Linked DNA regions of Homo sapiens. The protein of the gene in region 5 interacts with the protein of the main gene of each other region in a biochemical or structural test. Each region holds a gene or a part of one and is shown on either strand. Other genes may lie near its edges. The genes, in order: IKBKB, SIRPA, PPARG, MAP3K7 and PPM1B.

The links.
Region 1: of the proteins of PPM1B (region 5) and IKBKB, one has a biochemical effect on the other in vitro, tested with the Homo sapiens proteins (one study listed by BioGRID).
Region 2: the proteins of PPM1B (region 5) and SIRPA form a complex in vitro, tested with the Homo sapiens proteins (one large-scale study listed by BioGRID).
Region 3: of the proteins of PPM1B (region 5) and PPARG, one has a biochemical effect on the other in vitro, tested with the Homo sapiens proteins (one study listed by BioGRID).
Region 4: the proteins of PPM1B (region 5) and MAP3K7 form a complex in vitro, tested with the Homo sapiens proteins (one study listed by BioGRID).

Annotation. Positions count from the first base shown.
Region 1 is NC_000008.11:42,319,802-42,326,057, forward strand, and holds part of IKBKB (inhibitor of nuclear factor kappa-B kinase subunit beta), read left to right. Parts: intron 1-933; coding exon 934-1,043; intron 1,044-2,094; coding exon 2,095-2,144; intron 2,145-2,252; coding exon 2,253-2,352; intron 2,353-2,545; coding exon 2,546-2,693; intron 2,694-5,485; coding exon of another isoform or gene 5,486-5,524; exon of another isoform or gene 5,525-5,560; intron 5,561-6,168; coding exon 6,169-6,256.
Region 2 is NC_000020.11:1,911,557-1,917,812, forward strand, and holds part of SIRPA (tyrosine-protein phosphatase non-receptor type substrate 1 isoform 1 precursor), read left to right. Parts: exon of another isoform or gene 1-2,766; coding exon of another isoform or gene 2,767-2,845; intron 2,846-3,542; coding exon 3,543-3,899; intron 3,900-6,256. UniProt on the Homo sapiens protein: Immunoglobulin-like cell surface receptor for CD47. Acts as docking protein and induces translocation of PTPN6, PTPN11 and other binding partners from the cytosol to the plasma membrane.
Region 3 is NC_000003.12:12,379,570-12,385,825, forward strand, and holds part of PPARG (peroxisome proliferator-activated receptor gamma), read left to right. Parts: intron 1-134; coding exon of another isoform or gene 135-142; coding exon 143-362; intron 363-1,752; coding exon 1,753-1,922; intron 1,923-6,256. UniProt on the Homo sapiens protein: Nuclear receptor that binds peroxisome proliferators such as hypolipidemic drugs and fatty acids.
Region 4 is NC_000006.12:90,511,317-90,517,572, reverse strand, and holds the end of MAP3K7 (mitogen-activated protein kinase kinase kinase 7), read left to right. Parts: intron 1-891; coding exon 892-1,072; 3' UTR 1,073-3,994; downstream 3,995-6,256. UniProt on the Homo sapiens protein: Serine/threonine kinase which acts as an essential component of the MAP kinase signal transduction pathway. Plays an important role in the cascades of cellular responses evoked by changes in the environment.
Region 5 is NC_000002.12:44,226,413-44,233,266, forward strand, and holds the end of PPM1B (protein phosphatase 1B), read left to right. Parts: intron 1-3,580; coding exon of another isoform or gene 3,581-3,589; exon of another isoform or gene 3,590-4,000; coding exon 4,001-4,306; 3' UTR 4,307-5,060; downstream 5,061-6,854.

The DNA.
Region 1 (6,256 bases), on a different chromosome or scaffold from region 5:
AAGAGAGTAGCCAGTGAAGGGAGCCCCTCTGTGGCCAGATGCAAGAGCTGCATGAATGGACAGAGATGGTCCAGGTTTAAATAAGAAGCAAGGGTTAGGTTCCCTTGGGGAAAAGCCAAGACCATTTCCTGTTAGGAAGGGCATTGGATGGATGATCAACACTCCCTCTTGTCGAAGGTTTTTGACTAATTTTGTTGGGATGCTAAATCCATAGGAAATAAAAGGTCTAGGCAGAAAGTCTCAGGGCAGCGTAAATCAGATGTCACCAAAAAAAGTTAATTATGAAGGCAAAGGAAATACATGTGACTTAATGAACCTCACACAAACTGAAGGTTGAAGTCAGGCTCCGGGGCTTTTTCCTGGACTTATCCTCTGTTTTCCCCTGTGTACTTGGGCAAGGATCTTCACCTGTGTCTTAGTATCGATTTTTATGAATCAGTACTGATGGAGTATATGTGTGTTTAATGGTGAATATTAACCATAGAAGGGCTGAGTGCTCCTCCCCATCTTGGGACTCATAATCTGTGAAATAAAACAGTCTGGGCCTCCCTGCCCGGGTAGCATCAGGATAGACAGATGAAGAGAAGAGAAAGTAATGTGTCTTGGGCATCTTCTGTATGCCAGGCACCATGCCAGAGGCTTTAAGTACTTCATCTTACTTGACTCCTCAGATGGCCCTGTTAGAAGCCTATTTTATGCAAAAGGAAACTGTAGCTGGGGGTAAGTAACTTGCCAAGGGGTCACACAGCTAGAAAGCGGTGGACCCTAGATGCAGGCGCAGCCATTCAGACCCCACAGTCCACATTCCTTTGAGCCAGTCCATTGAGGGTCCTCAGGGAATGTGGCGGGTCCCCTGGTCTCGCTCCCCCGCAGATCTTGCATCTCAGCATGCGCCTACCACATCAGTTGACATTAGCACAGCTTTTCCATTAGGAGAACGAAGTGAAACTCCTGGTAGAACGGATGATGGCTCTGCAGACCGACATTGTGGACTTACAGAGGAGCCCCATGGGCCGGAAGCAGGGGGGAACGCTGGACGACCTGTGAGTACTGGCTGGGGGGCCCCTCTGTGCCCAGCACACACAGACAGCCCTGGAGCTTCGGTGTGTGTGTCAAGGGCACCCTCAGTGGCTGTGCGGGACCATTCTCTAGAGCATGCTTCCCTGTGGGGTCACTTCCAGCAAATCATCACTGAGCTTCAGTTTCCAAATCTGTTCAGTGACAAGAAAAACAGTCTTAAGTCACGAAGTTGTAAGGATGAATTCAGATAATGCATTTGAGACGCAGGCCATAATCTGTAAAGGCTGTAAAATGCAAGCAGCCTCTACCCCTGTAGCAGACTCCCCTGATTTGTTCCACCCACCCTGACTCAGGCATAGCTCAGAGCAGAAAGTAAAACAGAGAAGGAAGAACCTGATGAGGCTTAGGAGTTTGGACCTGGAAACTATTCGTTTGAGTCTTTGTCAGGTATTTGGCATTGGCTCCATGAGGGGCGGAGGGGTCTAGGCAGATCACTCCTACCTGAAGGAGATCACATGTGCTCCTGGCGTACAGATGGAGGGAACCAGGCAGGCCGCTTGAGGGCTGTGTCACCGTGAGCTCAGCAGTGTTCCCTGATTCTCTCACTAGGATTCTTAGGACAGGAGCTCCAAATGTCAGAACTTTGATTCTGTATTTTCTCTAATTAACCCTTTATTCTCCTCTAGTTCTTTTATTTGTATTTGTATTATTTTTTTAAGAGACAGGGTCTTGCCCTGTTGCCAATGCTGGAGTGCAGTGGCACAATCATAGCTCACTGCAGCCTCGACCTCCCAGGCTTATGCAGTCCTCCCATCTCAGCCTCCCAAGTAACCGGGACTACAGGCGCATGCCACCATGCTCAGCTAATTTAAAAAAAAAATGTTTTTGGCTGGGCACAGTGGATCACATCTGTAATCCCAGCACCTTGGGATGCCAAGGCAAGAAGATTGCTTGTGAGCCCAGAAGTTCGAGACCAGCCTGGGCAACATGGTGAAACTCTACCTCTACCAAAAAAATGTAAAAATTAGCCATATTTGACCTCAAGTCTAGACAGAACTTCTTTGTATATTTTAGAGAGGAGCAAGCAAGGGAGCTGTACAGGAGACTAAGGGAAAAACCTCGAGGTAAGTGGGGTTCTGTGTCTGCCTTGGGCTTCTCCTTATCTCATTTATGGGGCATCACTACTCTCTGCTGGCTTCCTTGAGGAACTATGCTACCCTCCCTCTCTCCAGACCAGCGAACTGAGGGTGACAGTCAGGAAATGGTACGGCTGCTGCTTCAGGCAATTCAGAGCTTCGAGAAGAAAGTGCGAGTGATCTATACGCAGCTCAGGTATGAGCCCCGACCTTCCTGCTCTGGAGGAAGGACTGGGAGATGCAGGTATGAGGTCACCTTCCTCCCTCCTCTCTGATTCGCTGGACCTCATGAAGAGAGTTTCTGCAGCTGCTGACTGGATGCACAGCTGCCACAGGTTCTGCTTTCTCCAGCCCAAATGCCATTAGTTTGCCATGTTTATTCTTTGCAGTAAAACTGTGGTTTGCAAGCAGAAGGCGCTGGAACTGTTGCCCAAGGTGGAAGAGGTGGTGAGCTTAATGAATGAGGATGAGAAGACTGTTGTCCGGCTGCAGGAGAAGCGGCAGAAGGAGCTCTGGAATCTCCTGAAGATTGCTTGTGTGAGTGAGTGCTGTGGTCCCGGGCCCTTGGCCTAGCAGCCTCCTGTGCCTTTCCACCTCTGTGCACTGCCGCCATCCCACACGGGACACCACAGAGCCACCAGCAGCCCACTCAGCTGCTGCTCGGGCTTCACGTCGCTGTTCTTTGACTTGGTGTAAGCGGGGAGGTCAGAGGAAGGGCCTGTGCTAATTGTTTTCATTCATCTGTGTATTACTTTCGTGTGGCTACTGTAAAGATTAGCACAAACTGAGGGGCTAAAACAACAGAAATTTGGGCTAGGCATGGTGACTCATGCCTGTAACGCCAGCAATTTGGGGAGGCTGAGGTGGGAGGATTGCTTGAGCCCAGGAGTTCAAGACTGCAGTGAGCTGTGATCATGCCACTGCACTCCAACCTGGGCAGCAGAGCTGTCTCTACTAAAAACAAAAACAAACGTGTTATCTGAGCTCTAGAGCCCAGGAGTTGAAAGTCCCGTGTCAGCAGGGCTGAGCTCCCTCTGAGGGCTCTTGGGGAGGGACTGTCCTTGCTTCTTCCAGCTCCTGGTGGTTCCAGGCGTTCTTTGGTGTGTGACTCCAGTCTCTGTCTCTGTCTTCATGGGACCCCTGTGTCCCTTATCTGGGTGACTCTTACAAGAACACTTGTCATTGGATTTGAGTCCCACCCAAGTAGTCCAGGGTGATGTCATCTCAGGTTCTCTAAAGACGCTTTCTCCAAGTACGGTCACACTCACAGGCTCCAGGAGTTGGGATGTGGGCATATCCTTCTTAGGGCCACCAATTCAGCCCACCGTCATGCACGGCAGTGCAACTTGGTTGACCATCGTCTGCGTCTGCACTGCCCTCAGTGCAGTAAGCCACGCTTTCTGTGCACACCGTCTTAACGTAGCTGTGAGTCCATGGGATGCCACATGGTGGGGAAATGGGAAACAAAACAGCCAAGAACTGAGACGGGCAGGCCTGGCCGTGTTGTGGGAGCCAGAGCTGTTGGGACTGCAAGCCCCATTGTGAAAGGCTGCAGAGAAGGTGACATGGATGAAAGAGTGATTTAGGTGTCAGTTTCCCTTAAGAGCAAAGGGAAGGAGAGAGGGAGATGGTTGCTCATGGTGGAAGCAGGAGATGGTGCATTAGGAGATTCTCATTGTCAAAGGCAGAGGGGACAATCCACACACAGTGCAGAGAACAGAGGGGCTGGGGTCGCATGCCAGAGCACTGAGCATGCCTTGGGAGCGTGATTGACACATCCTCCTGTAAGAAGAGAGGAACGGGAGAAAACAGGATGACGAGGTAGAGAGGATCTGAAGAGGAGAGGGAGGTGCAGGTATGCGCAGGTGATAGCCTGATGTGCCATCTACATCCATTGAGCATTTACTGAATGCTAACTATATGCCCAGCAAGACACACAGGTGAGAAGGCATGGCACCTGTTCCCAGGAGGGCCTGATCCTTCAAGGGGCACAGACAGAGGCATGAGTGAGAGCCGTTCAGGGCAGGAAGGGCTAGGAAGCAGCTCCAGGAGGCATGAGCTGCAGTTTCTGTGCACAGGGGGAGCTCCAGCTTGTCTTAGAGGAGAGGGAGCAACAAGAAGGTTCACAAGGAGCTGTTCCAGCTGAAGAGTGAGGATGTTCCAGGACAGAGACACTGCTTTATCAAAGGCAGAGAGCCTGGGGAGTCAGTGTGTTCTGAGTGGGGACAGGCTGGTGTGTGTGGGGAAGGCCACAATGGAGGATGAAGCTGCTGAGGTAGGCAAGGGTGAGCTTACGTGGGCCACGCTTCATTTTCTTTTTTTTTCGAGACAAAGTCTCGCTCTGTCCCTTAGGCTGAAGTGCAGCTGCTCAATCTCAGTTCACTGCAACCTCCACCTCCCGGGTTCAAGTGATTCTCCTGCCTCAGCCTCCCAAGTAGCTGGGACTATAGGCTCATGCCCCCACACCTGGCTAATTTTTGTATTTTTAGTGGAGATGGGGTTTCACCATGTTGGCCAGGCTGGTCTCGAACTGGCCTCAAGAGATCTACCCCCCTTGGCCTCCCAAAGTGCTGGGATTACAGGCATGAGCCACCGCGCCTGGCCTATGTCCATTTTCAAAGCACACAGGACACATGGCAGTATCTGTCTTTTCCCTTGATATTAAAGGAACTTGAGTGTAGGGATATGATCACATCTGGGATTTGGGGAAGTCCCTCTCCAGGCAGCTGGAGGATCTGAGTCCCTGGCCAACCTCAGCACTGAGAAGGGCCGCTCAGCAAGGCTGGAGTTGAGCCGCCGCTGTGCAGCACAGAACAGGGTGGGGCAGGAGCTGGGGCAGGGCCTGGCTGGGAGGGAGCCAGGCAGTGCAGGAGCCATCCCCTGCCATACTTTCGGTCCAGGGCAGAAGCACAGGAGGCCAATGCCGGGCCTCTCCCCAGGCATGGTCAGCAGGGAAGGTGCAGCAGGAGGACCAGGAACGGGAGGCTTGGGTGCTTAACATGGCTTCTTGATGTGTGGGCCTTGAGGTTTCGCTGGAGGGGAGGATGTGGAGCCAGGATGGTTCCACGGCCTGAGGGACACGTGAGGGGATGAAGGACTGCAGGCCGAAGTGAGTGTCAGGTGTGGGGCCTGGGGGGCTACATGGGTGGGTTGGGGACCATGCAGGGCAGAGATCAGCAGAGGGGTGACCTGAAGATTGGCCGGCGGTCGTGGGCTGTGAGCTGAGGAGGCTCAGGTAGCTGGAATGGGAACCCCTGCTTGACCCTTCGGGCTGGGAGGGGCAGTGGCTGCAGCCCCTTGGGAGTCAGGGTGTCCTTGTTTCTTCTCAGCCAGGTCATAGAGGATGCAAGCCACAGGAATTCCCATAGCCTTTGTGTGTGTGTCTGTCTTCTACCTGGAAAACAGTAAGAATACTTTCCTGTTCTTTTCTTGTAAAAGTTCATTAAGGGGCTGGATGCAGTGGATCATGAATCCCAGAACTTTGGGAGGCTGAGGCAGATCACCTGAGGTCAGGAGTTCGAGACCAGCCTGGCCAATATGGTGAAACACCGTCTCTACTAAAAATACAAAAATTAGCTGGGTGTAGTGGCACACACCTGTAATCCCAGCTACTTGGGAAGCTGAGGCAGGAGAATCGCTTAAACCCCGGAGGTGGAGGTTGCAGTGAGCCAAGATCGCACATCGCACTTCAGCCCAGGCGACAGAGCAAGACTCTCAATCATAATCAATCAGTAAAGCTGATGAAAATAAAAAAGCCTGCAAATTAATGTAGGCACCCAGGTCTCCTTAAATTTAGAATCCTTTCCTCAAAAGTCTCCGTTGATACAGAAACACTTTTGAAGCCAGATGTGAAGCACCAGTTGACCCGCAGGTGGGGGTGCCAACTGGTAGGCTGTAGGGTTAGCTCTGGCCTCTGGCAGCCAGCCAGTTGTCTCCTAAGAAAATACTGTGGCGTGAATGCAAAATGTGATTCATCACTTGGCTCCTAATTTCTTTTGATTTTGTCCCCTAGAGCAAGGTCCGTGGTCCTGTCAGTGGAAGCCCGGATAGCATGAATGCCTCTCGACTTAGCCAGCCTGGGCAGCTGATGTCTCAGCCCT
Region 2 (6,256 bases), on a different chromosome or scaffold from region 5:
CCCCTATCATTGACCGGCTGGGCTTTTTCTAATGTCTTTAAGATCGTTATACAGGAAACCTACTCCATATCTGGGGTTACGTCCTCAGGGAGCAGCCCAGCAAAGGCTGGTGAACAGATTTCACACCTTTGGTTCATCCTGCCAAGCTGCTTTCCCGAAAAGATGTTCCAATTTCCCCTCCCACCGGCAGTGCGTGGGAATGCCTGCCCAGCCGCCCTCCTCTCCCTGAGACGGTTCAGGCCCCTGGACAGTCGCATCCTCTGCTAGGAGGGCAAGAGAAAGCAGGAAATAATTTGGCCAGCAAGTGACCCCAGACCCAGAGCCAGGAGTGATTTTTAACAAGCCTGATTCTCAGAACAGAACCTGCAGAGAAAAAGAAAGCAAGCAAGGAAAAAAAAAAAAAAACCCCTCTCTACTGGAAAAAACATACACATACACAGATTAAAATAATATTTGGCACTTACGTCGCACTTTTAAAATTCTTCAAACGCTTTATAAACACTAGCTAATTAATTAAGCCGCCTAAATCTGGCTGCAGTCGGTGGAGAGAGCTCGAGAGGAGCTAAAAAAAAAATGGGGGAGCCAGCGCTACACAACTCCAGATTTTATTGTCGCCTGCCTGGGGTGTGATTACAGGCCTCCGGCTGCACCACAAGAATAGCCCTGCTCCAACATGCTGCACGCCTGACTCCGCAGCCTCTCCTGCGCCTCCTGCTCCCTCACCAACTGCTGACTCACAGCCCCTTGTGGTGTTATTGATAAGGATAATAATAACTGCAAGCCAGGCTGAGTCCCGGGCTCCGGGCCTGCACCCTCCCCTGGATATGCCAGTATCAACTCCACCTAACACATGAAGAGAGAGGAGATTTGCCCAGGGTCATGGAGCCAACGACATCCTTCCTTCCTTCATTCATTACCGCATTCATTCTGCATATTTTTATCGATGACACTGTGTTTTAGGCAGGAGGTTGGAAACAGTCCCTTGTGGATCCTACATCCTACTATTGGGAATGTGACAATCCAGAGAAAATCAAATATGTGAATAATACAGCTATGTGATAATAATGGGAATAAGAATTAAAACTTACCCAGCACCTATGCAGCAGGCATACCACCGTGTCAGGGTCCTCATGACTGTGCTGGGGTGGATGCCGGAACCCCACTTCATGGATGATGGAATGGGGGTCCAGGGAAGGTGGGTACAGAGGTGGCTAAGAGGGGAGCCATGCTGTCACCCAGGCCTGCTGGCCCTAGCAACTGTGCTTCCCCGAGGCAGCCTTTCCAGTTGGTCCAGTCTCGAGGCTGAAATACAGACCTATCCGGAAAGTTCCTAGCTCAGTGCTGCTGGTGCTGCCTCTGATGTCCCCGCCTGGATGGGCCTCCCGGGCCTCCCACACATTTGGCCACCAGCCTCACCCCTCTCAGGCCGTCTGATGCTGGCTGGGCCTCTGTCCACTGTGGGTTCTGTCTGTCCACTGTGGGTTCTGTTTTTTTCTCCTGTGCCATGAAGATCTTGCCATGTTCAACTTCAAATGGAAATGAAATGAGAAGCTGGACTTCCTGATAATAAAAGCAGTTGAGGTCTTAAGTGGTTGATCAGGAAAAGGAAGTCGAAATGGTAATATTTACACCCAAAGCAGGTGGAGTGGTCTTAGGCACTCTGAGACTCCACTCACCTGCCATGAGAACCGGGCCCCAAGGGTGATCCCTTGCCAGAGTCAAGACTGGGTGAGGCTGGGAATGGGAGAAAGAGGCAGGACAATGGGCAGATAGCCCTGGGCTTCCTGCAGTGAGGGCAGATAGGGGTCTGTGAGCCTCTTTCCCTGGCTGCCCTGCCCCTGCCAGTGGGGTGGTGCCAGGCCATGGGTTGGTGGGCAAATTCACAGGGTCTCTCTCCTCCCCAGCCAGAGCCAGAGGGGCACAGCAGCTCTGGACATCTGCCGCAGCCTTGTCTGATGTACAAGGCAAAGGTGGCCCAGGTCAGGGCAGGACAAGGTCACATGAAGGGTCAGTGGAGAGCCCAACTGGGGCCCCAGGTCACCTGTCACCTGCATACCAGGTAGCTGCCACTCCTCTGTCTACCTGGTTCTCTCCTTCTCCCCTATTCTAGCTCGCTCTCTCACTCTGCGTCTGTCTCTCAGGCATGTGTTTCTCTGAGGTCTTTATGATCATGATCTTTCTTTTTTTTGTTTCTTGTACCTCACCTTGTTCAGAATCGAGGCCCTGGCTCTGCCTTGCTCTGAACTGTTCTCACTTGGTCCCTATCCATCTTCAACGCATCTCATGACAAGCTCGTCCTGCCCTCTTCCTGTCTGGGCTCCCCCCGTGCACCCCAATCTCTCCACCCAGGGTCCCTGTCTTGTGTGCCCCAGTGTCTCTGATTGGGGCTCAGGCTCCTGCAGCCAACCTCTACAATTCCTTCCAGCTGCCCATTTGGGAGCCCTTGAGGCCTGGACTGGGTCCAGCTCCAGTGTGTCCCCATCACAGTGAGGCCTGGATCACAGGGCATCAGCAGGTGTTGGTGAGAGTGAAGTTTGAGCCACAGCCACCTCCTTGTTTATTCAATGTATAGTAACAACAACTTCCTCAGGGCCCATCTCAGGGCTAAGTGACTTCTATGTGTGATCTCGTTTTCTTTTCAGAACAAAGCAGAGGCCTGGGGGCTGTTCTACCCATCCTGTAGATAAGAAAACTGAGACTCAAAACTGATGGATAAATTAAGGTCCCACAAGAACAAGGGGCGAGCCAGGTTTCAAACCAGGTCCGATGACTCTAAAGACCAGATGCTGCATTTGGACGCTGTCCCCAGCCTTGGCTTATTTTATCCTCCCAGAGATCCATCGAGGTGGGGTCATAGTAACTATTTTACAGATGAAGAAACCAAGGCTGAGAGCAGTAAGGGCAAACTAAGGGCAGCTCTTGCATTTGTGTGACACTTTGCTAGCCAGGCTCAGTCCTGGGTTCCAGGTGGGGACTCAAACACACTGGCACGAGTCTACATTGGATATTCTTGGTTACCTGAGTGGTGGCCCAAGGACACAGCTATAGGCCACTGATCCAGAACTCAAACTACATTCTCCTACTGCCCAAACCGCTGAGTACAGCCTCCCTTCTCGGGGCCTGCATCCTGGGCCAGGCCAGAAACAGAATCTTAACACCTTGTACAGCCCCAGATATGCCAGGCCCCTACCTCTGAGTCTTTGCCCAGGCTGTTCCCTCTGTCTGGAATACCAGGCTCCCTTCTGGCTCATTCAGATTAGAATTAGCCCAGCTCAGATGTGACTCTTCCAGAGAGGGTCCAGGCATTCAAACCCACTCTCTGCCATGTCATTTAGCTTTCTGTGCCTCAGTGTCCCCACTTAGAATACAGGCTCATGTTGCAGGTTTGTTGTGAGGGTCAAATGAGATGATACATGCACTATACTGATCTCACAGCCTGCTTCTGGTGTGCATCCAGTCAATGAACGTCATTGATAAACACTTGAGGAAACACAGAGGATCACGTAAGGATGAAAAAATGACTGCTTTGTGCTCCTTTCCAGGAGTGGCGGGTGAGGAGGAGCTGCAGGTGATTCAGCCTGACAAGTCCGTGTTGGTTGCAGCTGGAGAGACAGCCACTCTGCGCTGCACTGCGACCTCTCTGATCCCTGTGGGGCCCATCCAGTGGTTCAGAGGAGCTGGACCAGGCCGGGAATTAATCTACAATCAAAAAGAAGGCCACTTCCCCCGGGTAACAACTGTTTCAGACCTCACAAAGAGAAACAACATGGACTTTTCCATCCGCATCGGTAACATCACCCCAGCAGATGCCGGCACCTACTACTGTGTGAAGTTCCGGAAAGGGAGCCCCGATGACGTGGAGTTTAAGTCTGGAGCAGGCACTGAGCTGTCTGTGCGCGGTGAGTACAGCGTGGGCCTCCTTTGCCTCTGGTTTGTGACAGTAACTCAATAATAACACCCTCCATTCTTTGAGCAATGATCAGGTGTGGTGGTAGGTGCTCCTTTCCATGAATTGATGTCTCCCCCTTTTACAAATAAGGGAAGTTGAGGCCTGAAGACGTCATGCTATTTGCTGAAGGCTCCACAGCTGGTAAAGGGTGGGAACATCTGCATCCTTCATCTGCCTGGCTGTGTAGCCCTGGCCTCTTCAAAGCTGACCCAGCCCTTTCATTCCACAGATGAGGAAACTGACAGATAGTGTGACTTGCCCAGGCACAGGACCAGACCTCACCTGCTGCCTCCAGAGAGCACTTCCCTCTCAGGGCAGCCGAGTCTCCTCTATGTGACAGGCACTCACTGAGAACCTACTGTGTGCCAGGCTCCGCCAAGCTTGTGTTCTCATCCCTTCCAATAAGAGATCCACCCAGGGCAGGGAGCAGAGAGGGTGTGTTTCCTTTATTTCATCACCAAACACCAACTGAGAAGATTCCTAAAAGGCACAGATTTACTGTTTAATCTGATGGCCCTGGTGAGAGGAGAAGCCAGAGGGTTGGGCATTTTCTGTGGGTCTTTTAGAAAAACACTTGTGTGATTTAGGGACTGATTCATGCGTCACTAAAGGCTCTGAACAAAGCTGGGTCATCATAGAATGTCTCTCACCCCAGGGAGGAGGTCTCCCTTCTAGGTGACTTTGGGTTCCTCCGTTAAGGCAGCAAAGATGCTCATTTTGTATTTACTGCCAGAGCCCCAGGATCCTTGTTCTAACTCCGAATCCTGGGACATTAGTACAGGAAGGACCCTCAGACCATCCAGCCCAACCCCTAGTTACAGGTGGAAACTTGAAGTCAGGAGATGACAGGGGCCTTGTCCACAGTCATAGGCCCAGTTAGTGACAGGATCTGGACCAGAGCCCACATCTGATTCCAGGGAGGCTCCTTCATTAGCCATTGTTTACATAGAAGAGCCTGGTGCATCATAGGTGCCGACTGAAAGCTCCTTGAACAGAACTGCTAAGCAGGAAGCCAGCACTTCTCCTTTCCATCAGTTTCCTAAAGGTTCAGAATATTCACATTCAGACCGTTAGGCCCACTGGTGATTGGAAAACCGCTCCCAAATGTAAGCCATATCATTTGATACTGAGATTTCATATCAGGATAGAGACCTGCTCCATTGTGTAATAGCTACAGAATACTCCAGCTTATGGAAATACCAGATTTATTTTACCATCTTCCATTGATGGATACGTAACTTGTCCCCAAACTTGAACTATTAAAACAGTCCTGCAGTGGATGACCTTATACATGTGTGACCTTACTCAGGTGGGAGACGCCCACTGCAAGTGCCATTGCTAGATCAGAGGGGGTGTGTGTTTTAATGTGTGTGGATATGGCCTAATTTCCCTCCTAGACATTATAACAATCAAGTCTCCCCACAACCGCTGGACATAGGCAGGGAGGGTGGCTTTATCCTGATTGTGCAGATGTTACAGGAAAAGACGTTGAAGTTCCCAGATGATGCATCTCGTGCCTAGACAATCACAGCAAATACGTGGCTCAGGTGTGACCCAGATCTGCTGACTCCTAGCAGAGTGCTCACTCCTCTTTGCCATGCTGTCAGCCTAAATGATGCCCTGGATGAGAAAGGAGGGAGGTGGGAGGGGGCCAGGGAGCAGCAGCTGGATTGGATCCTCATCCTGGCACTTTCTCCTTTTATAACAAGTACTTATGAAGGAAGAGCCATTTCTTGCCCCCTTTACAGATAAGGACTCTGAGGCTCAGAGAGGAGACCTGTGTGGTGAGCCAGTGGGGGAGCCAAGGTTTGATCCCCACCAGCCTGACTCACAGCCCCTGTCTCTGTAACACTCAGCTATGCTTGTCAAAGTGTGGAGAAATGCTCCACCCTACTCATTCCAAACTCTTGCAGTTCTATAGCAATAAGCATAGGCTGAGGCAGGAGAATGCTTGAACCCAGGAGACGGAGATTACAGTGAGCCGAGATCGCACCACTGTACTCCAGCCTGGGTGATAGAGCAAGATTCTGTCTTGAAAGAAAAAACAAAACAAGTCCTATGGGAGTAGGAGGGACTGGCCCCCATCAGAAAGGTCCTGCAGATGTCTCATGATATGGGAACTTGTTCCTAAAGGACAGGTCTCAGCACATCACTGAGTAGCATCCATGGAGCAGAGTTGGGCCTCCTGCAGCCCAGCAGACCACGTGCCCACCTACTCACGGTGCTGAGGACTAAGGATGAGGAGATGAGGCATTTCCTGGTGGGTGCTTGGGGCTCATTGGAGCAAGAGTTTATATTATCCCCTCA
Region 3 (6,256 bases), on a different chromosome or scaffold from region 5:
TTCTTTTCTGTTGTTGTGAGCGCCCAGATGAGATTACTTTGCCAAAGACTCTTTTCATTTCTCTTTCTGAAACTCTGTGAGATTGCTGTGTTCTCTAGGACTTAACTTCACAGCTAGTCTATTTTTCCTTTCAGAAATGACCATGGTTGACACAGAGATGCCATTCTGGCCCACCAACTTTGGGATCAGCTCCGTGGATCTCTCCGTAATGGAAGACCACTCCCACTCCTTTGATATCAAGCCCTTCACTACTGTTGACTTCTCCAGCATTTCTACTCCACATTACGAAGACATTCCATTCACAAGAACAGATCCAGTGGTTGCAGATTACAAGTATGACCTGAAACTTCAAGAGTACCAAAGTATGATGTTTATTTTCACTTTTCAGACTACTAGGACTAGAATTGGACTCATCTCTCAGTAACCCTGTAATAAATAATGCTCCAGAGACTAGAAATCTAATAGAGAAGGCATTCACCATTCATTTATTCACCCATTTATCCATGAAATATTAGGTATCTATGAAATGCCAGGAAGGGAGCTGGCACGAGGTCAATCTTGCCTTCCCCGCCCCCTCCTTCCTTCCTCTCTTCTTTCCTTTCTTGCTTACTTCCTTCTTAGGGACATTTTCTACCTTGATTACACTGTCAGTTGTATCTCAGGCTAAGAGTCCATCATCCAAACTTTGAATTATTTTGGCCCCTTATAAGTTAATAAGTAACAATTCCAAGTCACTTTGTATTATATAACTTATCTTCACTATATTACTGCTACTACAGTACATTTTTTCTAGTATGTCCTTTCAGGAGTTTATACTGAAACCTACTTTTAAGCACAAATTTGTTTTAACATTGTAGCCTATTGATAAATTTTCATGCCATTAACTAAATCAACATCAAAACATCAGACTCAAGAAAAACTAGAACTGCACTTTTTGAGATAAAATGTATTTCTGTGATGCTATTTCCTTGATTTTTATCATGTGTGGGCTGACATGCTGGTTTTCCAAAGCCACCACTATGTAATTGGCAATCATTACTTGACAAGTAAGAACTTCCTGTATTTCTAGTGGCTTTTAAAGATAAATAATATGCTTAGTTATATTTATCTATGCGGTTTTCAGTTAGAGCCTAATATGGAAATTTAGTAGCCCTGAGCCCAACTAGTAAAAGGTAGGGCTTACTTCCATAAGTTCCGCCACGCTCTGTCAAAGATTATTTCACAAACCACCTCCTTTGACTGAACACTAATGGTAACCTGGGCTCATATTTTTCATGCACCTCAAGCTAGGCATACCATGACCTTTTCACAGTGGTGTTCCTTCTGTGGTTCTTTTGCAAGTTGTTTCAAAGTACTTATAAAATGGAATATTTAAATAAAATGTATAATTTAATATTGTGATGAATACCAAAGACAGAACATTTCCTAGCAAAATAAGCTTCCTTGTCTCAAATCCTCTATGTTGTCTGTTACAGCTGTAGTATTGCAGGCTACTGGGGGTCATAGAACCACAGACTTAATTCTCATTCCCATTTTATATTTACAGGTGAGGCTTAGAGATGTTATAACTTGCCTGTGATTACAAACCTTTCTTTTTCTTGCCTTAACTCCAGTGTTTTTTCATGTTCCACTGTGCTTTTACACTGAAACAATACAAATACAGCATGAAGGTGTACTATGGTGGCTTGCCCTGTTGCCTTTTTAGGACTGTTTTCATGGGATAATTATCCTCTCACATGTCTCCATACACAGGTGCAATCAAAGTGGAGCCTGCATCTCCACCTTATTATTCTGAGAAGACTCAGCTCTACAATAAGCCTCATGAAGAGCCTTCCAACTCCCTCATGGCAATTGAATGTCGTGTCTGTGGAGATAAAGCTTCTGGATTTCACTATGGAGTTCATGCTTGTGAAGGATGCAAGGTAATTAAAAAAAAAGTCTTCAAAGAAATTGTTGAAACTTTATTATTTCATTTCAGCAGAACCCCTTTTTTAGGTGATACAATATATGAATTTTTTTTCTTCATGGAAGAGTATCTTGCTCTGTCACCCAGACCAGAGTGCAGTGGTGCTATCCTAGCACACTGCAGCCTTGAGCTTCTGGGCTCAAGTGATCCTCCCACCTCAGCCTCCCAAAGGATGATATAAGATTTGAAAGCCTAAGAAAGTGGATAAAAGTTGGGCTGCTTTGCCCCACATTTGTTTCTCCAAATTGATTCTTTGAGACACTGATCTAATTTAATCCTTGCATCTTGCAGATTTTTACAAAAAGGTGACTTCTCCAAGGTGTCATGGCAAGACAGTGATGACCTGGAACCAGGATGCAGATTTCCTGCATTCTCTAGTTGTTTATTTATTTATTTATTTATTTATTTTGCTATACCGTGTAATATTGTATAGACAGAAGATTTTACAGATTATTTATATATGCATATCTTTGGATCCCTAGAGCAATCCTATAAGATTGGACTTCTTTATGGCCACATTGCAGATGTAGAAATTACAGGTTAGTAAAACTTGCCAAGGTCATCCCTTAGTAAGTGGCAGACCGCAGTCTAGACCCTGACTCCTTAGGTGGTGTTGGCTCTCAAAGCAGTGCCTCATGTTTCCTTATTCCAGCATCAATGTGAGCCACATACACGGACAGGTAAGGAGGTATAACAGTGTGGGAAAGGAGATACTATTTATCCTCATCTCTTTCCTTTGTGAAAAGGGTATTTTGGAAAATTCAGACGTTTAGTAATTTATTGCTTAATTATTAAGAAAATATGTGAATCCACTCATATTTTGATATGCAGTCTTTTAAGATAATTTTAATATACACAATGCAAAAATAGTACTAATTTATTATATACGCATTGCACAGAATAAACTGTTCATAAATATTCACTTTATAAAATAAATACCTGCTTATTGGGCTTTTTATTCAACGTAAAGATACAGAACAACAGTTAGGAAAGTTTTAGGACATCTTGGTTCCTAAATGGATGGTGGGCCAAAAAAGGAAACTGATTTTTATTGAATTCTTACTACATGCCAAATACTGTATGAGGTAACGTTTTCATACATCAGTATTTAACCACATCCTACCCAGGTTTTCTCATCTATAAAATGATTGTGGCTGAGTGTGGTGGCTCACGCCTCTAATCCCAACACTTTGGGAGGCCAAGGCAGGAGGATCACTTGAGCCCAGGGGTTCAAGACCAGTCTGGGCAGCATAGTGAGACCCCATCCCTACAAAATTTTTAAAAAATTAACCAGGCATGGTGGCACATGCCTGTAGTCCTAGCTTCTTGGGAGGTTTAGGTAAGAGGATCCCTTGATCCCAGAAGTTCAAGGCTGCAGTGAGCTATGATCATACCACTGCACTCCAGCCTGGGTCACAAAAGCAAGACCCTAACTCCAAAAATAAATAAATAAATAAGTAAATAAATAAAATGACACTGAATTACATGATCTCTAAAGTCCCTTCAATTGAAACAGTTTTTACTCTAAAGGCAACCTAATACAGTGAAAAGGGACAAACCAGAGGTCAGCTCTGCCACTTTCCAAAGTCATTAGCCAGTCACATACACATTGTATCCTTCATCAGGCCCCCCATATGTAAAATGACTTGGTTAGATTGGCTACACAAGGTCTTATTCATCTCTAAGTTCTGTAATTTCAAAATGACACTTTGAAACACTCTGGCAAGAGATGCTTTCATTTAAAACACTAAAACCCGTTCGTTCTGTAATTTAAACCAAGTTAAAATATTTATGACCTTATATGAAATCATTGTATTAAGTCAGTTATCTAAGATCTTGATGAGTAGTAAGAACATGTCATTTTATTGACTTAGATTTTTTATTGAATGTTTTGTGGTTTTATTGAGTTTTATTTTAGATTTAATGAGTTAGAGTTTATTTTTACTGAGTTGGATACCATTTTTGAGTGAGTAAACTGTTGCTAAATTCTGAGCCATATTTATCTGAAGAAACCATTCTGTTTTGGTCATGTTGATAATTTACAACTATAAATAAATAAAAACAGCATGGTTGGTTTAAGGTTCCACAATAAGTTATTGTTTTTTATGGGCTAGTAAAGCACTTAGAAAACTAAAACTTTTAAGCAAATAGTTCCACCATAATCCTATTAGTCACAAATTTGTGGAAAGCTAACATTACTGAAAACAGCTGAAAATGGAAAGACAAGAACATTGTCAGTAGTTGGTTATAGTGATAAATCTGAGTTCTGAGGGCACTAAAACTTAAAAGCAAGCAGGGAAGAAGAGTAGCAAAAAGAGAAGAGAGAGGAGGAAATCCAAGTGCCTTCAACTTAGGATTAGAAAGGGTAGAAAGCAGGGAGGGAGAAAAAATACTTAATAAAACCTGAAGACTCTAGGGGAGTCCTTAACCTATCATAGATTAAAAAGCAAACATAGAAGAAAACTAAGCGTATTGTATACTAACCTGCAGTAATTTGCAAACCATCCAAAATGTGGATTCCAGAATTCCTAGACTAAAATGTAAGGAAGGTTTTACTCCCTTGGAAAGGGAAAATAGACATCTACACGTTTTAAAGGTAAGAATAAGAAAAATATTATTCTTGGAAAATTTAAACATTTAGTAATATACTACTTAATATAAAGAAAATATGTGAATCCACTTATATTTTGATATGCAGTCTTTCAAAATAATTTTAATATACTCAATGAATAAAATAGCATTTATTGTATACTGATTGCACAGAATAAATTTTTCATAAATATTTACCTTATAAAATAAACCCTGCTTCGGCTGGGGTTTTTATTCGGCGTAAAGATATAGAACAGCAGTTAGGAAAGAATTAGGACATCTTGATTCCTAAATGGATGATGGGTCGAAAAAGGAAACTTTTTTTGAATTCTTATTCTGATTTTTATTGAATTCTTAGTATGTACCAGATACTATGTGAGGTACATTTGCATATATCATTATTTAACCACATCCTACTCAGGTTTTCTCATCTAGAAAATGATTCAGATGATATTGGTAGGATGTGGTTACATAATGAAACATTATCATTTGGCTTCTTCAAGTATACATCAGCAGTTCCCAAAGTGTGGTCTGGGGCTTGGACCCTTTCAAGGCATCCATGAAGTTGAAACTATATTCATAATAATGATTTTTATTACTTTTTTCACTTTCATTCTCTCAGGAGTGTATGTGGAGTGTTCTGGAAGCTACATGATGTAGGATGATGACATAGCTCTGGTAGCTAATGGAATGTTTGCTTATGTGTTCTTGTATATAATAATTTCTCAGTTGTAATTTCTAGTGTGATAAATGTCAGTAAAGATAGCCCACATAAACAAAATCTCTTTGGGGTCTTCTATAATTTTAAAAAGAGTAAAGGGATCTTGCAACCATAAAGCCTTCAGTCTCATTCTGAAGAAATGCAGTTACTCATTCTTTGCTACTTTGAAACTAGACAAAATTGCTGCCACATTCTGAATACTGCTGCATTAGACCAGTGGCTGTCAGTAAAGACATCTCCTTAGCTTATAACCAATACGCAATAAAAAGCCAGGAAAATGGAATTAGCAAATGTGTTTAACTCATCTGCATGTATTTTCTGAGAGGTGTTTTGGAAGCTTCACATTTGCTGTTGTAGTAAAATGTGGGTTATATTCATAATTAAAATACAGTTGACCACAAAGCTGCAGGCTTATCTATGGATTGAAAAGAATAAACACAGCATAAAACAACTTTTGGTAGATCTTCCTAAACAATTTTACAATGTAAATGGAACAGGTTTATATTAGTGATTCTTGCCAAAAATTCAGTCAGACAGATGAGAATGAGTAGATTGGGTTTGAATTAAGGTGAAATAGTTACAGATTCTTGGGTATGTTAATATTGCAAACTTATGTAAAATAAAACCTTTAGCAACTGAAAGATATATATAATTTAGAGCTTGGAAAGCTATCATTTATTTGTTGTTTACATGTTGGAGATATATTTTTTTCTTTGGTAAGTTCCATCCTATTTTTTATCTTTAGTGAAAGATCATTTTGGAACCATAGCCGTACCTAAAGATATAAGTAAATACAGTCTACCATACAATACAATGTAATCTAAGTTTGTATTTCTGTATACAAAAGAATGCCGTATGCTTGTTAGCCACTTGTATGTCTATTCATCCCTACTTCAGAAAGAGTTTTAATTCTTCTCACCTGCCAGTCGTAGCTTATTAATCCAACTTCCAGGGGCCAGACTGCTTCATGGGAAAGCCAA
Region 4 (6,256 bases), on a different chromosome or scaffold from region 5:
AAAAGCTTGATTTCTTATTTCACTTATTTAACCTATACTTTTGCCATACTTTAATCATTTGAAAGAAGTATTCTATGCTGGAAAAAACAAATGGTGGATTAGGGTGTTGGCTGTGAAAACTATGACAGTTTTAATCAATTTTAAATACTTTCAGAAGTAGTATTAGTTAGTTATTTTGCTTGAGGACTTTTTATTAATTATTCATTTATATCCAGTAACCTCACTTTAGGAAATGCCTAAAGATGCATCTTTTTCGGGAATACTTAATAGTTCCCAAATAAGAGGGACTTAAATAAGTTTATCAGACTATAAAAGAATGAGGGTCTTTCCTGAAAGTGCTTGCAAATGTAAGTGTTTTAAAAGAAGTGGTACTTTGTCATTTTTCTCACTGCTTTAAAATGGGAAAAAGCTTTAAATTGGATAGCATTTATTTTAATTAGATTGCAAATTTGCTATTAGCTTACCACTCTCTGCTATAGTTAAGTAGGATTGTGACTTCAGAATGTGAATCAGTATAAAAGTAGAATGTGAAGGATAAAAACTTCATGATATTTTCCCATAGCCACATAGAACCCTTCCCAGCCTTTTTTCATCCTTCCTACACAAAAAGAGGATAGAAAATGAAATTTTCTGAAACTTTTATTTTACCATTTTATCTGCTTCGCTAATTATCCAAGTACAGTTACTTAATAAAAGGATTATGTTATTTGTATGATTACACTAGAAGTAGATGAGAGTTCCATCCCAGCCCATAATTATATTTGATTAGTGTACCTAAGATGCAAAATGATAAACCAAGAATAAAAATTCTCATTAATTGAGCTTCCATCATCAGCTACTAAGGTATGAATTTTTCCATCATGTGTAATATTATGTGGTATTTGTTTGTAGGCAAGAACTAGTTGCAGAACTGGACCAGGATGAAAAGGACCAGCAAAATACATCTCGCCTGGTACAGGAACATAAAAAGCTTTTAGATGAAAACAAAAGCCTTTCTACTTACTACCAGCAATGCAAAAAACAACTAGAGGTCATCAGAAGTCAGCAGCAGAAACGACAAGGCACTTCATGATTCTCTGGGACCGTTACATTTTGAAATATGCAAAGAAAGACTTTTTTTTTAAGGAAAGGAAAACCTTATAATGACGATTCATGAGTGTTAGCTTTTTGGCGTGTTCTGAATGCCAACTGCCTATATTTGCTGCATTTTTTTCATTGTTTATTTTCCTTTTCTCATGGTGGACATACAATTTTACTGTTTCATTGCATAACATGGTAGCATCTGTGACTTGAATGAGCAGCACTTTGCAACTTCAAAACAGATGCAGTGAACTGTGGCTGTATATGCATGCTCATTGTGTGAAGGCTAGCCTAACAGAACAGGAGGTATCAAACTAGCTGCTATGTGCAAACAGCGTCCATTTTTTCATATTAGAGGTGGAACCTCAAGAATGACTTTATTCTTGTATCTCATCTCAAAATATTAATAATTTTTTTCCCAAAAGATGGTATATACCAAGTTAAAGACAGGGTATTATAAATTTAGAGTGATTGGTGGTATATTACGGAAATACGGAACCTTTAGGGATAGTTCCGTGTAAGGGCTTTGATGCCAGCATCCTTGGATCAGTACTGAACTCAGTTCCATCCGTAAAATATGTAAAGGTAAGTGGCAGCTGCTCTATTTAATGAAAGCAGTTTTACCGGATTTTGTTAGACTAAAATTTGATTGTGATACATTGAACAAAATGGAACTCATTTTTTTTTAAGGAGTAAAGATTTTTAATTCTGTGATTGTGTGTATGTGTGTTGAAACTGTAAAGCTTTTATGACTCTAATATTAATCTCTTAAATGAAATTAAAAGGCAAAAGAACATGATTGAGCTTAAATGATCATTTCTTCCTGCAGTGATTCTTGGATTGTTTTCTCATGTATTTGAAAAAAAAAAAATGAAGAAAAATAATGGAAAATGGAAGTAATTACTCCAGCTAAAAAAAGCTTGGACTTAGATTTCTTTTTATGATACCAAATGAGAAATAAACCAGGCAAATCAGAAGGAAGTTAAAGAAGCAAATATAAATTCAACAAGTGTCCTAATTATCCTGGATATTGGAATATTTGATTTTCCTTACAATCCCGTTCTAGAATGCCTGCCGCCTTTCAACACTTTCAAGAGAATTTCAACACTTACAGAGTATTTATATTGTTAACAGTAATTTTGCTACCAAAACCTTCAGAATAACTTTAATAATAAAATGACACTGAAATAATAGACTATACAAACTCTATATTTTTTCAGTTGGTGTTAAAATAAGTCACATTTTGATACCAGTACAAGATGTCTTTTAAATAAGGATGTCATCAGTCTGATTTTTATAGCATTAATGTTTTATGAAGAAAAAGTTCAAAATGAAAGCATTAATTGCTGTGATTATTAGAATTCTATCATGACTGTATTGTAGTTTTTGCTCTATTTCAGATAAGCAAGATCTAAGAAGTTATCAAAACTATTCTTTAAAATGCTAAAGCAGGTAACTTTTTCTTCCATTATTTTTTCCTCCTACCACTGAGTTTTGTAATGAATTCCTTGTGTATACAAGCAATACAGGTGAATACTAAACTGTTATTTTTAGCTTCTTCAAAAGCTATTTTAGAAAGCTTCCTGGAAATAAATGTCTTCTGTCATTTAATTTAAATAAAAGGAGTGTTAATTGTTCCCAAATTTGATTACCTAGCTGAAACAGATATTGGATTCAGCATAGTAATAGTAAAATAAAATTGGCAGAGAAAATAACTGTAGACTAGGATAAAGCATGACTCCTCCATAGCATTGTTGCTTGTATGTACATCTGTCACTCCACTGAAAGGGACCTAGTCACTTTAAAGAGGCCTTTTATCTCAGCACGAGATATCCAAGCGTGAATGCTAAGGCTTGATGTTTCCATTAGGATTTAGCATTCGAGATTTCAGATTTTATTTATAGTCATTGATGTGTTTTGCTGTATTATAACACATTTAAGGGAAATTTTATTATGGTTTTTACATGTAGTCATTTCATAAAAATATCCAGATAGGTAAATGGAAGAAAATAGTAGATTTTAGTCATGGTACCAAATGCAAGAGGCTGTTGAACAGTTGCTTGTTTGTTTACAGTAAGTTCCTTGAGATTTTCAGTACTGTAGTTGCCCTGGACATTGAGTACAGTTCAGCCTTACTCTGTTTTTAAGTAGTTGTGTTGTCAATTTCATGCTTTTAAGTCCTGATGATCCTTGGAGATGGGAGAAAAAGATACCAGGGATAATTAAAATCCACAGCCAGTTTCATCAGTTTCCTCATCCATCCTGCAAATAAAAATGTTAACAAGGAGCCAAACTTATTCGTTCTGGTTTTACAATTTATTTTGACCGTTTTTTGGGTGAAAATTGCAAACAGCCAAGCAAGTGGCTGGAATGCCCCAGTCTAAGAAATTCAAAAACAATCACTGAGTAAGCCCTAATTACATTAATTACATTTTACTCTTGACTCCAGGAAAAGAAAGCAAGCTTTTATCTAATCTAGAGGGAAGTATTCGTGAGCAATAAAAATCACTTTTTTGAGTTGAATAATAATCAGTTAAGAATATTTACCGCATAGCAACACAACATATAAAGATTTGTTACAAGTTGTTTACGGATGTTTGACTATTTTTGCTGAAGTATTTTAGAGTATTGAATGTCTTCTCTCTTCAAGTTTCTTTCATGTTCCTAATTTCAGCTCCTGTAGCCAGAGATCACAGGTCTTCCCTGTGAAACTTTGGTTTCTTTCTATAAATGTGTGTGGTTTTCAGCGCTCAACTCCTGTCTTCAAATGGTAGTAAGTTCTACTTCTACTTCTGTCATTCAGAACATTTTATGTCAAATGATGTAATGCAGAAATTCTTGTGCATATTTGTAACTGAAGGAAGCTTTTTAGATTTATTTTTGTTTTTAATAAAATTCAGATTCCTATTCTAAACTGGTACATAAAAGTGGTGAATGACTTGTATCAGCAAATGAGCTGCGAAGTGTTCTGCTCTAGCACCGTGTTTACCTTACACAGAACCTACTAAAAACTGAAATGTCACTTTTGTACGATAATCATGGTTTTTAAGAGGCTGGGTAATTGGCCAGTTAACACATCATCTCTTGCATTTCAAAATTTTGTGTTAAATGGAGCTCTTCACAATTTCATGAGTCCTAATTTGTGTGAAGCACAACACGTCATACATTGCTAAGTGATTCTTCTCATCAGAAAGCTGATTTCTTAGAGTATTTCTAAGTTAAATTAGGTATTTCATTCCTTTATCAACCTGCTGGCTTTCCAACCCTAACATATGCACACATTCTTATAAACTCTACCTTCATTTTAGTAAATCCATCCATTCATTTGCTCATTCTTTTAATAAATATTTGTTTATCATATATTATAAACTGCACTGCTATTACCAATACCAAGTTACATGTCCATTCCAGTCACACAGTAGTTTGATGGTATTCCCATCTTACAGATGGGAAAATAGGCTCCTAAAGGTTAAGACTTCTGCCTGAGTCTGCTTTTCCATCATCATCTGTTTCAGGCAGAATCTCATGCATGGGGACACTGTGGCCACTATTAGTCCATGATGCGAAGAAGAGCATAGGAAAAATCTTAGATTGAATGGCAAACAGAGGAATAGAACGAGATAACTTATAACTAGAAGATGCAGGGGCTTTGTGACCGCTCTGTAGATAGCAACAAAGCCAACATGGAGACCCACCCCCATGTCTTTTAAAACCCAAGTCTATGATCTAAACAAATTTGCCATGCTGTAATTTTAAATGCTCTCCAAATTCTGAGGTGATTTAGCTTTCACATTGACTTATTTGGCAGGTGGGAGATCTGCATTGTTTTAAATTGGGGTATAATTCATATATGATAAACTGCATCCAGTTTTTTAAAATGCAGATATCCTACCTGCCAAATAAGTCAGTGTGAAAGCTAAATCACCTCAGAATTTGGTGAGCATTTAAGTAAAAGTGTGCTGCTTACAGAGTTTTGACTTATGTATTCACTTGTGAAACCACCCCAGCAGTCAACATCCTCAGTATGTCTACCAGCCCCAAAAGTACCCTCCTGCCCCTTGCAATTGAGCCCTTCTCTCACCCCAGTCCCCAGACAACCACTGATCTGCTTTCTAACAATATGGATTAGTTTGCATTTTCTACAGTTTTACATAAATGAAATCCTAAAATATGTACACTTTACTTCTTAAGCCTTTTCCCCCACTTGAATAGTTTTTGTAATTCCTTTGAGAGGAATTTTAAGTTTTCTGTTGTTTTTCTTTTCTTTATTTTTTTAAGTTGCAGCTGCTTTCTGCTTGCTCAAAATCCCAGCAAAGACTAGGTTGGTTGTTATGCCACAGAACAATTGGCAAAACAATATTTTCAGTAACAGTGAAGATAGTCTTTGTAAAAATGTTTGACACTATCTCATACAGATGCTGTCAGTGGTCCTTCCTGATATGGTGGTGCACGCAGAAATAATATTTGCATTGGCAGATCATGTAACACTTAACACCAGGCTCTATGCTCCTTTTCCATCCATGACTAGACACTGGTCTTGGAGGTTCTGACACCCCCTGCCGTGCATTTCCACCAAAATGGAACGTCAGTTTAAATGACCTGCCCATCTGTTACTTTAGGCAGCCTTTAAATCAGTAGGTTCTATGTTATGCATAACTTGAGTCTTCCAAAATACATAAGACCACTTTTAAATGAAGCTTTTTTGAGAAATGAATGGCTATTTAACTGTATTTGAGTGTCATGGTACTTTCAAATTTCCAAGTCATGAAAGGCATTACTTTTCCTTTAATTTAATGGTTAATGATATCTTATCAGTGCCATGTAGCAGCAGGATCATTGCTTTGAAAGCACCAGAAATTACTGAGTAAATGCTGGATATTTATATTCTGAAAAGCAAAAGTAACTTACAAAATGCAGTTACTTTTCAGACTTGTTGCGTGTTTCTATTTGTGGATACCTCTTCTTTAGTTATTACTGGAATGATTACATTAATCATCGATTGGCTCATTTACTAAATTCAGACTAGAGACTGAAGAAACCTGAAACTGGGTGTAACTTTGGTTGTAGAATTAATGGTGGTATTCCCTCATCACATGCTCTAGAACCATTTTGGCTTTTAATCAGTTTCCTACAAAGGTCCTTAACTAAATATCCATCTAAAATGTGATAGACATCT
Region 5 (6,854 bases):
CCAAATACGACAAATGGAACAACCTTTCATCCAACCTTATTAATAAGTCCACCTCCAAATTGAGTCATGCCATTTAGTCTATATCAGTGATTCTCAACCCTGGCTGTATATCAGAATTACCTGTCAGGCTTTAAAAGAACAACCCAAATCCACTGAATCTGTGTATTTTGAAATGGAACTTTGGCATGTGTGCAATTTTAAAAGCTCCACAGGTAATTCCAATGTGGAGCAAGGGTTGATAATCACTTTATGTGTAAATCTTTGAAGCAGATTTTGTTTTAATGTCCTGTAATTTTTTTTTAATAAAATGGTAGGTTTTTATCTTTTTTTTTTTTTTTTTTTTTTTTGGTTTGGGGGTTTTCGGGGGAAGAGGGTTGTAGGCCCTGCATTAAAAGGTCTTTGTGATATACCGTAAAGTAGAAAATTTCCTCTTAAAGACTGACAAGGTTTATCATTAGAGTATACTTATCACATGTTGTTCCATCTCAACCCTTCCTGAATAGATTAAAATGGGAAACTTTTTATTTATTTATTTATTTATTTATTTATTTATTTATTTATGAATGAATGAATGAATGAATGACAGGGTCTTCCTCCATTGCCCAGGCTGGAGTGTAGAGGCATGAACATGGCTTACTGTAATCTCAACCTCCTGGGCTCAAGTGATCCTCCCACCTTAGCTTCCCAAGTAGCTGGGACCAGAGGTGTGTGCTGCCACACCTAATTTTTTAAATTTTTGTTTTGTAGAGACGGGGTCTCCCCGTGTTGCTCAGGCTGGTCTCAAACTCCTGGGCTCAAGTGATCCTTTGACCTTGGCCTCCCAAAGTGCTGGGATTACAGGCATGAGCCACCAGCCCTGGATGAGAAACTTTATTTAGGGAAACATGTTTTAAGTCCACATAATAAATTTTGCAATTAAATGACAGCTAATATGCTTGTTGTGGAAAATTGGAAAATTCAAAGAAAATAAAGTATCTAGAACTCCCTACCCATTATCATTATATTGCTGTATTTCCTTTCTTTCCAGGTATTTTTACATATGCTAACATGAACAGATACACAGACGTATATGTATCCAAAAAGCATGGGCCATACACAGTATCATCTTTTTTTTTTTTTTTTGGAGATGGAGTCTTGCTCTGTCGCCTAGGCTGGAGTGCAGTGGGTGTGATCTTGGCTCACTGCAACCTCCACCTCCTGAGTTCAAGCAATTCTCCTGCCTCAGCCTCCCGAGTAGCTGAGATTACTGATGCACACACACCATACCTGGCTAATTTTTGTATTTTTAGTAGAGATGGGGTTTCACCATGTTGGTCAGGCTGATCTCGAACTGCTGACCTCAGGTGATCCACCCATCTCAGCCTCCCAAAGTGCTGCGATTACAGGCATGAGCTACTGTGCCCGGCCCAGTATCATCCATTTTTTGCCATGAGGATACTTCCCCGCCCCATCCCCACCACCACCCCGTCTGAGGCAGGAAAACAAGCACTTTTTTTTTCTTTTTCTTTTCTTTTTTTTTTTTTTTTTGAGATAGAGTCTCACTTTGTCACCCAGGCTGGAGTGCAGTGGTGCGATCTCGGGTCACTGCAACCTCCGCCCTCCGAGTTCAAGCGATTCTCCTGCCTCAGCCTCCCGGAGTAGCTGGGATTGCAGGCACTTGCCACTGCGTGCTGCTAATTTTTTGTATTTTTAGTAGAGATAGGGTTTCACCATCTTGGCCAGGCTGGTCTTGAATTCCTGACCTCGTGATCCACCCGCCTCAGCCTAACAAGCCCTTTTTTTTTTTTTTTTTTTTAAGAGGGTCTCACTCTGTCGTTCAGACTGGTGTTCATTGGTATGGTCATGGGTCACTGAAGCCTCAACCTCCTCGACTTAGCTCAACCTCTCGCCTCAGTTCCCCAAGTAGTTGGGACTATGGGCGTGTTCCTTTTAAACATTTTTTGTAGAGATAGGGTCTCATTGTGTTTCCCAGGCTGGCCTAGAACTCCTGACCTCAAGGAATCCTCCTACCCGTCTCCCAAAGTGGTGAAATTGCATACACGAGTCACTGCTCCTGGCCAATGAGGGCAACTTTTTAAAAAATAACATTCATCTGCTCTCATTTTTCTAATAAAACATTGCCATTTATTATATGGCTTTATTAGTGTTATCTTTGTTGCAAAAGTATATGTAATAGTCTCTAAAGATGGTTAAGAGTTTGTGTCACATCAACTGTATCAATAACCTATTTTGTATTTTATTTTCCCAATATTTTAAGATGAAAACTTCCAAATGTATTTAAAAAGGGGATATGATATGTTGGAACAGCTGTATATTGTCTCTCTAGATTCAACAACTGTTAACATTTTGCCATAGTTGCTTTATTTTTCTTTTTATATCTACTGTTTTTTTTCTTTCTTTGACTGAACCCTTTGAGAGAAAATTGCAGACATCATATTTTACCTGTAAACATTTAAGCATGCAGCTCTTAAGAATGAAGATATTTTTCAGCCAGGCACGGTAGCTCACACCTGTAATCCCAGCACTTTGGGAGGCCGATGCAGGCAGATCACCTGAGGTTGGGAGTTCGAGACCAGCCTGACCAACATGGAGAAACCCTGTCTCTACTAAAAATACAAAATTAGCCGGGCATGGTGTCACATGCCTGTAATCCCAGCTACTCGGGAGGCTGAGGCAGGAGAATCGCTTAAATCCTCGAGGTGGAGGTTGTGGTGAGCCGAGAACATGCCATTGCCCTCCAGCCTGGGCAACAAGAGTGAAACTCCATCCCAAAAAAAAAAAAAGAACGAAGACATTTTTCTGTATAACCATAATACCATTATTATACCTAAGAAAATTCATTTTTTTAAATTTATTTTTAATTTTTGTGGGTACACTGTAGGTGTATAAAAAAATAAATTGTATAATATTGAATATCAAGTTTAAATTTCCCTAGTTGTCACTAGAGTGACTATTGTAATTGTTATTTTGAATCCCAGTCTAATCAAGTTTATCAATCAAGCACATTAAACAAGTCTTTAATCAGTCAAGCCCCTCACCTGTTTTTTTCCCCTTGAAACTGACTTTGAAGAATCTGAGCCAGTTTTTTACAATACGTCCTGCATTCTGAATTCATATGATTGTTTTCTCATGTGTGCTCTAACTTGATCCTCTATTCCCTTTTTTCCTGTAAACTGGGAATTAGCATTATTAGATTCATTCTAAACATTTTTTGGCACGAATACAGGACATGACTGTACTTTATAATGCATCATATCAAGAGGCACATACTGTAAAGATATCTTTATTTTAGTCTGTCGGCTTAACTGTGATCAGCTTGGATGATTAGAGCTTGTTCTGTACAGTATTAAGTAGTTACTATTGTAGAAACCTGTAGATTTTCCAAAATTCACTAAAATATGAAAGGATTGAGTAGTTTATTATTCATACTGAGAATACTTAATTTATTTTTATCTAGAGATGTTTTTATCAAAATAAGAGCAAAAAGTAAATACAATTTTTATCCGTAAAAACTCTAAAATCTTTCAAAAATCTGTTTAAATCTATATAGTTTTATGTTTTGTATTTCCTACTTATTTAGCAGAAATGATGAAGAAACTGTTCTGATGGCCTGCTTTTCTGTCCTTTTCCTACTGCTTTAAACATTGATTTTCTTTTGTACTAAATCATATAGCCAAATATTGTTTAAGTAAGTCAGTTTTAGGAAATGCTTGTGTTGCTGTTGAATTATAAAAGCTGAGTAAATTTCAGATTAAACTTTAAATGACTGTGAAATAAGACATAAACTAGTTAATGGTAATTTGCTTAAAATGACTTGAGATTATTATTGGAAGTTTTTATTAATTGATACAGGTAAGAATTGATATTTAATAAAATGTTCTCATGCTTAGACTATATTACTTTTCGGTAGAGAAATTAGTATTTTGCTGTAATGTGTTATGAAATACATGTGATATCCTAGTTTGTCTACTGACACTGGGGTCTTGAATCTTAAAAAAAGGCCTCCGATGAAGCAGAGGAAAGTGGATCACAGGGAAAATTGGTGGAAGCTCTCAGGCAAATGAGAATTAATCATAGGGGAAACTACCGACAACTTCTGGAGGAGATGCTGACTAGTTACAGGCTAGCTAAAGTAGAGGGAGAAGAAAGCCCTGCTGAACCAGCTGCCACAGCTACTTCTTCGAACAGTGATGCTGGAAACCCAGTGACAATGCAGGAAAGCCATACTGAATCAGAAAGTGGTCTTGCTGAATTAGACAGCTCTAATGAAGATGCAGGGACAAAGATGAGTGGTGAAAAAATATGACTTTCCTTTTTGGTAATATTTTTGTGATCTTTGATGGTTTTTAACCTAGGAAGTGTAATGTATGCATTTATATAACTGTTTTGTTATTTGAATCTTGGAAAACTAGTTTTATTATATTCAGATAGCCTTGTTTTTTAAAAAGGCCTTTGCATACACCTTTATGAGATAGTGTAAAATTGACTATTTATAGTACTATGGATTTAATGAAATTATATGTCATTTCACATTGTATGCCAGAAATTAGGCTACCAATTATGAATTAAAGTCAGTAGTTAAATTAATACTAGATAGAATTAGAAATTTTGATTAGAGAGATTATGCTATATTATGGAAAAACTTGTTAATGTAGAATTATACTGCTTCATATTATTTTACCTATTAGTACACTCATAGTTAGCTTTGTAATAAATTTATGTTTTCTTTAATAATTTTAGTTCTTCAAAGAATGGCTGATGCTGGCCTGTAATTTTTCTTTCAAGGATGATAATTTGTGTGTTGTTTGATTTGTTTATATTTTACATCTCTGTAGTTTTATTTTTAGAAGTTGTGAGATATTGGATGTGTGGCTATTTTTCCTTTCTCTGTATTCTTTATGAAACATAACTTTTGAAAAACCTATGTATTATTCATACAGCTTTGGTTTGTATATTCTGTATAGCCTAACTACACACATCAAAATGTATGTCAACCAAGTGTTTAGAATGAAATTATAAGTGTTTAAGTCCAAATAAAGCATGTGATGTGGAATAATCTATGCATGTTGTACTTATTTTTGAATTAATTTTTTAAAAACAACCAAGTTTGGTATATTGGAAGAATACCCATTAGAAATTCATTTGTATTTATATAACATTTAGAACACTTTTGGCTTACCTTTTTTCATTAACAAAAAGGAAAAGTTTAATATTAAAATATATGTGTTGCATACTTAAATCTATTCTTTTTCTTATCCATCTTTTGTGGTACAAAATATTAATCTTTGGACATTATGGGCACACATTAGACATGTGAGAAAATTGCCACAGTGAGCATTTTAAAGATTGCAGAATTGTCCATTTTGTTACAAATTTTTGTTAGTTATTAAGAAATTGAACAATTATGGGCTATTTTTAAAATAGTGGCAGATGAGAGTTTTTGTTTAAAGGGATTTTTAAATTATAGATTTGTCACATAGGGAAAAATATTTTTTAAAAATTATTTTATAACTGTAGAACATTAACTTTTCGTCTTTACGTTTATATTTATATCATGTGTCTAAAGTTGCTTTAAGTTACCATAAATTGAAACTTCGGAATCTTTGGATGTTATAGCTGATGTTTTGATGTATTTTTCCAATGCCAGAATATTTTTAAGTGCTTTGAGAAAGGAAGGCATTTGATGGAGAGGGGAGGAAAATAACCCAACCCAGTTATCTATCCATATTAGATACACGTGTACACACACAATATGCAATACACAACATCTCTCTGTAAAAGTACCCTTTTCAGACAAAGAAAGGAAGGTAATTTGTTCATCAATTTTGTTTTCTTTTGAAATTCAATCCAATCTGGAAGTGGCATAGGTAAATAATAATATTCTTCCTTTTCTCTTCCTGTAGGGTGCTGGAGATCTAGAAGACCCATGGTAGCCTTAAAAACCTTCTAAAATGCTTTTGATTCTGAAAATTGGGGGAAAAAACTTTTAATCACAATTTTCTTCAATACAAGGGGAAAATATTCTTGCGGATTCCCAACGTTTTGTGATATGAGCAGAAAATCATTAGCATTTCCCATCATTTGTTCATATTTGTGTTTTCTGACAGTTGCCACTTGTAGCATTGCCTGTACTACAGTATTTTTTGCCAACCTCAGGCATACTCGTTACATCTGTATTGAACTTTCGGCCCTAGAAACCAGTGGAGTTATTTCACCACAAATCAACAATGTGCCTGAGGTGCATGGGAAATATAGTTAGCTATACTCTGAAAATACATTATGTTTTTTTTCTTTAAACAAAACACACAACATGTAAGCATGTAAGAGTAAAGAATTGTATGATATGTTCCTTTTTTCAGTTCACCAAGTTGGAAGCCTTTTGCAGCTCTGTGGCTTGGAATTTCATTTGAGCAATTTCTATAGGATATGTATTTATTATTGATTGTTATTTAATTTTTTTCCAATTTTACCTGTATTACCAAACTGGGTTCTCCAATAATGTCCAAATTGTAATGTTGCCTTGCTTCAAGATAAAGTGTATTTGGGAATAATATTATAAACCCTTACAAATTTTATGCATGTATCTACTGCATCCTTCAACTCTCACTAGAAAATCTTTTGAAACCAAATGGATTAATTTATGGCTATTTATAATTTGCTTTGACATCTCACTGTTGGAAATTTTTTAAAGATGAGATTTGCCTTTATAATGTAAATTGTGATTTTTGTTTTACATGTGGGTTTCTATAGTTTTAATTTTTTCAGCTTTTAAGATACGAGTTTTGTGTAATTTGGTATTTTTAATCATTTATGTTATTTTAAAAGCTCAGAATATCACATTGAAATTACTATAA